Homo sapiens: one gene and its partner. The protein of the gene in region 1 binds, or shares a complex with, the protein of each later gene. Each region holds a gene or a part of one and is shown in the gene's direction. Other genes may lie near its edges.

Region 1 (3,944 bases):
ATTTTTGTATTTTTTGTAGAGACAGGGTTTCACCATGTTGGCCAGGCTGGTCTCAAACTCCTGACTTCAAGTGATCCACCTTCCTTGGCCTCCCAAAGTGCTGGGATTACAGGTGTGAGCCCCCGCGCCCGGCCTAGAATATAATTAAAAAGAAAATTAATACCTTCAATTGAGAGGCAGTTTCATGAGGTTTGGCAACAGACAATATCTACATTTCCCAACTTAAAAACTGCAAGTCCATCAACATGAGTATTTTTTCCCTTTAAATACTTTTTAACATTTTTATTGTCAAAGTAATTCATATTAATAAAATTCAAACAATAAAATAATATAACATGAAATATAAAAGTTCTGAATCCCAACCACGCACTGTTGCGTATGTAATATATAACAGCTTGGTTATTTTCCTTAGCTCATATGTAGTGTATAATACGTTTTCTGTATAAATGTATAAAAAAGTCTATTATATGTATATATATTATTGAAAAAGGCTGGAGTGCAGTGGCGTGATCTCAGCTCACTGCAACCTCCACCTCCCAGGTTCAAGTGATTCTCTTGCCTCAGCTTCTCGAGTGGCTGGGACTCCAGGCATGTGCCACTATGCCCAGCTAATTTTTGTATTTTCAGTACAGACAGGGTTTTGCCATGTTGGCCAGGCTGGTCTCAAACTCCTAACCCCAAGTGATCCACCCACCTTGGCCTCCCAAAGTGCTGGGATTACAGGCATGAGCCACTGTGCCCGGCCTAAAAATGTATTTTAAGCAACAATGGAATAATAATGTCTTTCAACTTGCTTTTCTCAATTAATATTTCCATGCCTGCTCATGTAAATTCACCTTACTCTCTCTAATATCTCTGTCTGTGTGTGTGTGTGTGTGTGTGTGTGTGTGTGTGTGTGTGTGTGTGTGTGTAGGATAATTTACTTAACTAGCCCTTTTTGATGGTTGTTAGGGTTTTTTTTTCTTTTCTTTTTTTTCCTTCAACTTTTATTTTAAGTTCCAGGGTACATGTGCAGGATGTGCAGGTTTGTCACAAAGGTAAAAGTGTGCCATGGTGGTTTGCTGCACAGATCAACCCCATTACCTGGGTATTAAGCCCGGCATCCAAGCTGTTTTTTTCAATGTGAATTTCAGAGACCAGAAATTGCTCCTCAGTTTGCTTGCTAAGGAAAATGGTTGCTATGCAGCTCTTGGTAACACTGCTTTTGTGGAAAGATAAAGGCTTTTTGTTCTGAAATCCCGTGGGTGCAGAGTCTCAACTCTGCCATTGTTGTTGCGTGAGCTGTGTGGGAGAGCCTTGGTCACTGTGTGGGCTGGGGTTCTCCTGAACTTTGCCATGGAGGAGGCAGTTCTCTTCTCAGGCACTCTGCTGGCCCTGACCTTGATCCTGGAACAGAGAACTACCTGACAAGGCAGTGCAGTAGCATTCCTGGAATCAATGTAGGTTCTTTTACAATAGGGGTTGGCAAACTTTTCCTGTAAATGGACAGATAGTAAACATTTTATTATTTTATTTATTTTTTGAGATAGAGTCTTGCTCTGTTGCCCAGGCTGGAGTGCAATGGCGTGATCTCAGCTCACTGCAACCTCCGCCTCTGGGTTCAAGCGATTCTCCCTGCCTCAGCCTCCTGAGTAGCTGGGACTACGGGAGCCTGCCAACAGGCGTGGCTAATTTTTGTATTTTTAGTAGAGACAGTGTTTCACCAAGTTGGCCAGGCTGATCTCGAACTCCTGACCTCAAGTGATCTGCCTGCCTTGGCCTCCCAAAGTTCTGGGATTACAGGCATGAGCCGCTGCGCCTGGCCATCATAGTAAGCATTTTAGATCTTGCAGGCTATATGGTCTCTGTCACAACTATTCAACCCTGCTGTTGTAGAGAGGAGCCAGGGTAGACACAATGTAAATGTATGAGCCTGGCGATGTTCCACTAAAGCATTATGGACACTGAAATTTGAATTTCATATAATTTTCATGTGTCACAAAATACTATTCCTCCTTTGACTTTTCCCCCAAGCATTAAAAAAAAAAAAGTACAAACCATTCTTAGCTTGCAGGCAGACCTCTTGCAGGCAGAGGTCCAAATTTGGCCCATGAACTGCAGTTTTCATACTTCTAAATTTAGAACATGAGTTTTTGGATTCTTAGTTTTGATTCAGCTGAGATGGGTGACGTGTATAATGATAAGTACTTGTTTTTCTAGGTGGATCTTAGTGGTAGAGGTGAATTATTCATATCTTCATTTCATAGCGCCCTGTCCTTGCTGGTCCCTACAAGACTCCCCTGTCTTCTGTGTTTATTTGTTCCCTTTAATCATCATTTTTTTTTTTTTTGAGACAGTTTCACTGTCACCCAGGCTGGAGGGCAGTGGTGCGATCTTGGCTCACTGCAACCTCCGCCTCCTGGGTTCAAGTGATTCTCCTGCCTCAGCCTCCCAAGTAGCTGGTATTACAGATGTGCACCACCACGCCTGGCTAATTTTTGTATTTTTAGTAGAGACGGGGGGTTTCACCATATTGGCCAGGCTCGTCTCAAACTTCTGACTTCACGTGATCTGCCTGCCTCGGCCTCCCAAAGTGCTGAGATTACAGGTATGAGCCACTGTGCCTGGCCTCCTTTTGTTTTTTTTTTTTTTTTTGAGACAGAGTTTCGCTCTTGTCACCCAGGCTGGAATGCAATGGTGCAATCTCTGCTCACTGCAACCCCCACCACCTCCTGGGTTCAAGCAATTCTCCAGCCTCAGCCTCTCGAGTAGCTGGGATTACTGGCGTACGCCACCACGTCTGGCTAATTTTTTTTATTTTTGGTAGAGGCAGGGCTTCACCATGTTGGCCAGCCTGGTCTTGAACTCCTGACCTCGGGTGATCCGCCCACCTTGGCCTCCCAAAGTGTTGGGATTACAGGCGTGAGCCACTGCATCCGGCCATGTATCTTTAATTTATATAAGTGGCATTTTGTTACAGAGCTCATCCCCATTTTTCCACTTCGCAGTGTCTTTTAAAGATATCCAACTTGCCAAGTGACCATCAAACCCTTGCTCCTAACTAGTGTGTAGGGCTCCATAGGTGAGCCCACTGTCTTTTACTTCATTTTCAAAAAGAAGTTGTCTTGAGTGAGATTATGTGTTGAGCTTGAGCGTAATTATGTGTTGAGCTTGGGAATATGTATCTCTTGCCCTTACAAAGAATAGGCAGATTGGCTGAATGTCAAAAAAAAAAAAAAATTACAGCTTTTTTCCCTTCTAAACTGTAAATAAATATTTAAAATTTATTTATTATTATTATTTTTTGAGATGGAGTCTCACTCTGTCACCCAGGCTGGCGGATCACAAGGTCAGGAGATCGCGACCATCATGGCTAACATGGTGAAACCCCATCTCTACTAAAAATACAAAAAAATAGCCGGATGTGGTGGCAGGCGCCTGTAGTCCCAGCTACTTGGGAGGCTGAGGTGGGAGAATGACATGAACCCGGGAAGCGGAGCTTGCAGTGAGCCGAGATCGTGCCACTGTACTCCAGCCTGGGTGACAGAGAGAGACTCTGCCTCAAAAAAAAAAAAAAAAATTTTTTTTTTTGTTTAATTTTTATTTATTTTTAAAATTTAGTTTCTTAAAAAAAATTAAGTTATAACTTACCCTTTCAGTGTTTACTTCTGTGAGTCTTAATAAACACATGTAATTGCAGAATGGTTGCCACATTCAGGATGTAGAAGAGTAGGCCGGGCGTGGTGGCTCACGCCTGTAATCCCAGAACTTTGGGAGGCTGAGACGGGTGGATCACCTGAGGTTGGGAGTTCAAGACCAGCCTGGCCAACATGGTGAAACCCCATCTCTACTAAAAATACAAAAAATTAGCCAGGCGTGGTGGCATACGCCTGTAGTCCCAGCTGCTTGGGAGGCTGAGGCAGGAGAATCGCTTGAACCCGGGAGGTGGAGGTTGCAGTGAGCCG
Region 2 (3,600 bases), on another chromosome or scaffold:
TTTCAAGGAACAGCCAGTAACCAATGTTTATCTACGTAAGTAAGGAAGGGAGAACAGTAGGATGAGAGTTCAGAGAAGAGGGTAGGGGATATCAAATAATTTAAGGCCATGTAGGATTTTTGAGAAGAATTTTGCTTTTATGTCAAGTGGAATGAGGGCCACTGATGATCTGGGAGTAGAGTGACTATGATCCGACATGAAGTATACTCCATTTTTTAACTATGTGAACTTGTGCCAACGTTTTAACCTCTAAATCTGTTTCGTCATTTGTAAAACGGTAAAAAGTATTTTACCTCATAAGGTTGTCGTGATGATTAAATAAGATGATACGATAAGTGCAAAAGATTTAGCTTGTACTTAACATAGAGTAGGCACATTTTCTCCCCTTCCCTGTCTTTCACTTTTCTCTTCTGCCCCTTCCACCTGGCGCTAGGAGGGGGAGACTGGAATAAACCTTGCAGATTACAGCCCGTGTAAGAGTAGAAAGGAAAGGATGACAGTTGATGTAAAGCCTTGGTTAACAGACATAATAGCTGGGATTTAAATTCAGCTTTATTGGTGGTTTATGATGTGGACTAGAGGAATGGAACTGAAAGTCTCGGAGGAGGGGCGATCCTATCAGGTACAGGCGCTGCTTTTCCAGCCCTCAATCCTCAAGACTCTCCCAAGATACATTTCTAGGTAGTTTATCAACACAGACTCCGGGTATGCTAGCATGTTTAATTGCCCCATTGTTTAATGTCTTAACTCCACGAACTTTAACTGATTAATCTGTCTTCTAATTAATGTTTGAATGACTCTCCTCAGGTCTAAACTACCAAGGCCATCTCTACTTAAAAACAGTTGTCTTTTGTTTGTGATTTCAGGGGCCCTGGGTATAAGCGAAGTCCCTGTTTAGAGACCTTGTGATGGGTTCAAAATATCAAGAAAGATAGCAAAATATCACAAGCCTCCTGACCCGAGAAGATTAGCGTTGAAAGGGTCTGTCGTGTTTGTTTGGGCCTGGGGCTAAATTCCCAGCCCAAGTGCTGAGGCTGATAATAATCGGGGCGGCGATCAGACAGCCCCGGTGTGGGAAATCGTCCGCCCGGTCTCCCTAAGTCCCCGAAGTCGCCTCCCACTTTTGGTGACTGCTTGTTTATTTACATGCAGTCAATGATAGTAAATGGATGCGCGCCAGTATAGGCCGACCCTGAGGGTGGCGGGGTGCTCTTCGCAGCTTCTCTGTGGAGACCGGTCAGCGGGGCGGCGTGGCCGCTCGCGGCGTCTCCCTGGTGGCATCCGCACAGCCCGCCGCGGTCCGGTCCCGCTCCGGGTCAGAATTGGCGGCTGCGGGGACAGCCTTGCGGCTAGGCAGGGGGCGGGCCGCCGCGTGGGTCCGGCAGTCCCTCCTCCCGCCAAGGCGCCGCCCAGACCCGCTCTCCAGCCGGCCCGGCTCGCCACCCTAGACCGCCCCAGCCACCCCTTCCTCCGCCGGCCCGGCCCCCGCTCCTCCCCCGCCGGCCCGGCCCGGCCCCCTCCTTCTCCCCGCCGGCGCTCGCTGCCTCCCCCTCTTCCCTCTTCCCACACCGCCCTCAGCCGCTCCCTCTCGTACGCCCGTCTGAAGAAGAATCGAGCGCGGAACGCATCGATAGCTCTGCCCTCTGCGGCCGCCCGGCCCCGAACTCATCGGTGTGCTCGGAGCTCGATTTTCCTAGGCGGCGGCCGCGGCGGCGGAGGCAGCAGCGGCGGCGGCAGTGGCGGCGGCGAAGGTGGCGGCGGCTCGGCCAGTACTCCCGGCCCCCGCCATTTCGGACTGGGAGCGAGCGCGGCGCAGGCACTGAAGGCGGCGGCGGGGCCAGAGGCTCAGCGGCTCCCAGGTGCGGGAGAGAGGTACGGAGCGGACCACCCCTCCTGGGCCCCTGCCCGGGTCCCGACCCTCTTTGCCGGCGCCGGGCGGGGCCGGCGGCGAGTGAATGAATTAGGGGTCCCCGGAGGGGCGGGTGGGGGGCGCGGGCGCGGGGTCGGGGCGGGCTGGGTGAGAGGGGTCTGCAGGGGGGAGGCGCGCGGACGCGGCGGCGCGGGGAGTGAGGAATGGGCGGTGCGGGGCTGAGGAGGGTGAGGCTGGAGGCGGTCGCCGCTGGTGCTGCTTCCTGGACGGGGAACCCCTTCCTTCCTCCTCCCCGAGAGCCGCGGCTGGAGGCTTCTGGGGAGAAACTCGGGCCGGGCCGGCTGCCCCTCGGAGCGGTGGGGTGCGGTGGAGGTTACTCCCGCGGCGCCCCGGCCTCCCCTCCCCCTCTCCCCGCTCCCGCACCTCTTGCCTCCCTTTCCAGCACTCGGCTGCCTCGGTCCAGCCTTCCCTGCTGCATTTGGCATCTCTAGGACGAAGGTATAAACTTCTCCCTCGAGCGCAGGCTGGACGGATAGTGGTCCTTTTCCGTGTGTAGGGGATGTGTGAGTAAGAGGGGAGGTCACGTTTTGGAAGAGCATAGGAAAGTGCTTAGAGACCACTGTTTGAGGTTATTGTGTTTGGAAAAAAATGCATCTGCCTCCGAGTTCCTGAATGCTCCCCTCCCCCATGTATGGGCTGTGACATTGCTGTGGCCACAAAGGAGGAGGTGGAGGTAGAGATGGTGGAAGAACAGGTGGCCAACACCCTACACGTAGAGCCTGTGACCTACAGTGAAAAGGAAAAAGTTAATCCCAGATGGTCTGTTTTGCTTGGTCAAGTTAAACCCGAAGAAAACCCGCAGAGCAGAAGCAAGGCTTTTTCCTTGCTAGTTGAGTGTAGACAGCAATAGCAAAAATAGTACTTGAAGTTTAATTTACCTGTTCTTGTCCTTTCCCCTATTTCTTATGTATTACCCTCATCCCCTCGTCTCTTTTATACTACCCTCATTTTGCAGATGTGTTCTACATCTCAAGAGTTATTACAGTACTCCAAAACAGCACTTACATGATTTTTTAAACTTACAGAGGAATTGTAGCAATCCACCAGCTAACCGCCTGAAATAGACTTAAACATGTGCATCTCCTTTTTTTTTTTTTTTTTGAGACACAGTCTCGCTCTGTTGCCCAGGCTGGAGTGCAATGGCGCGGTATCGGCTCACTGAAACCTCCGCCTCCTGGGTTCAAGCAATTCTCCTGCCTCAGCCTCCCGAGTAGCTGGGACTAGTAGGTGCACGCCACCATGCCCAGCTAATTTTTGTATTTTTAGTAGAGACAGAGTTTCATCATGTTGGTCAGGATGGTCTCCATCTGCTCTGTTGCCCAGGCTGGAGTGCAGTGGCGCCGTCTCGGCTCACTGCAACCTCTGCCTCCTGCATTCAAGCAATTCTCCTGCCTCAGCCTCCCGAATAACTGGGATTACAGGTGTCTGCTGCCATGCCCGGCTAATTTTTTGTATTTTTAGTAGAGACGGGGGTTTCACCATGTTGGTCAGGCTGGTCTAGAACTCCTGACCTCGTGATCTGCCCGCCTCGGCCTCCCACAGTGGCATGTGCATCTTATAGCTGAAGTCTAAGCCTTCTTAAATCTTGAGATCCATCAAAACAGACAGGTTTTCTAATTGTTATACAATGTATATGTTATGTTTATAATAGAAATCATTTTACAAATAAG

The links. The genes of interacting proteins can lie anywhere in the genome.
Region 2: the proteins of PLAAT3 (region 1) and KRAS are in contact, whole or in part, in a crystal structure (PDB 7C41), measured with the Homo sapiens proteins. Residues at the interface, in NP_001121675.1 of Homo sapiens: Leu65, Tyr66, Asp67, Val68, Ala69, Gly70, Ser71, Asp72, Lys73, Tyr74; in NP_001356715.1 of Homo sapiens: Ala11, Gly13, Lys16, Ser17, Tyr32, Asp33, Pro34, Thr35, Ile36, Thr58, Ala59, Gly60, Gln61, Asn85, Asn86, Lys88, Asp92, Tyr96, Lys117.

What each region holds. Positions count from the first base shown.
Region 1 is NC_000011.10:63,600,671-63,604,614, reverse strand, and holds part of PLAAT3 (phospholipase A and acyltransferase 3), read left to right. Parts: intron 1-3,944. UniProt on the Homo sapiens protein: Exhibits both phospholipase A1/2 and acyltransferase activities. Shows phospholipase A1 (PLA1) and A2 (PLA2) activity, catalyzing the calcium-independent release of fatty acids from the sn-1 or sn-2 position of glycerophospholipids.
Region 2 is NC_000012.12:25,249,023-25,252,622, reverse strand, and holds the start of KRAS (GTPase KRas), read left to right. Parts: upstream 1-1,693; 5' UTR 1,694-1,872; intron 1,873-3,600. UniProt on the Homo sapiens protein: Ras proteins bind GDP/GTP and possess intrinsic GTPase activity. Plays an important role in the regulation of cell proliferation.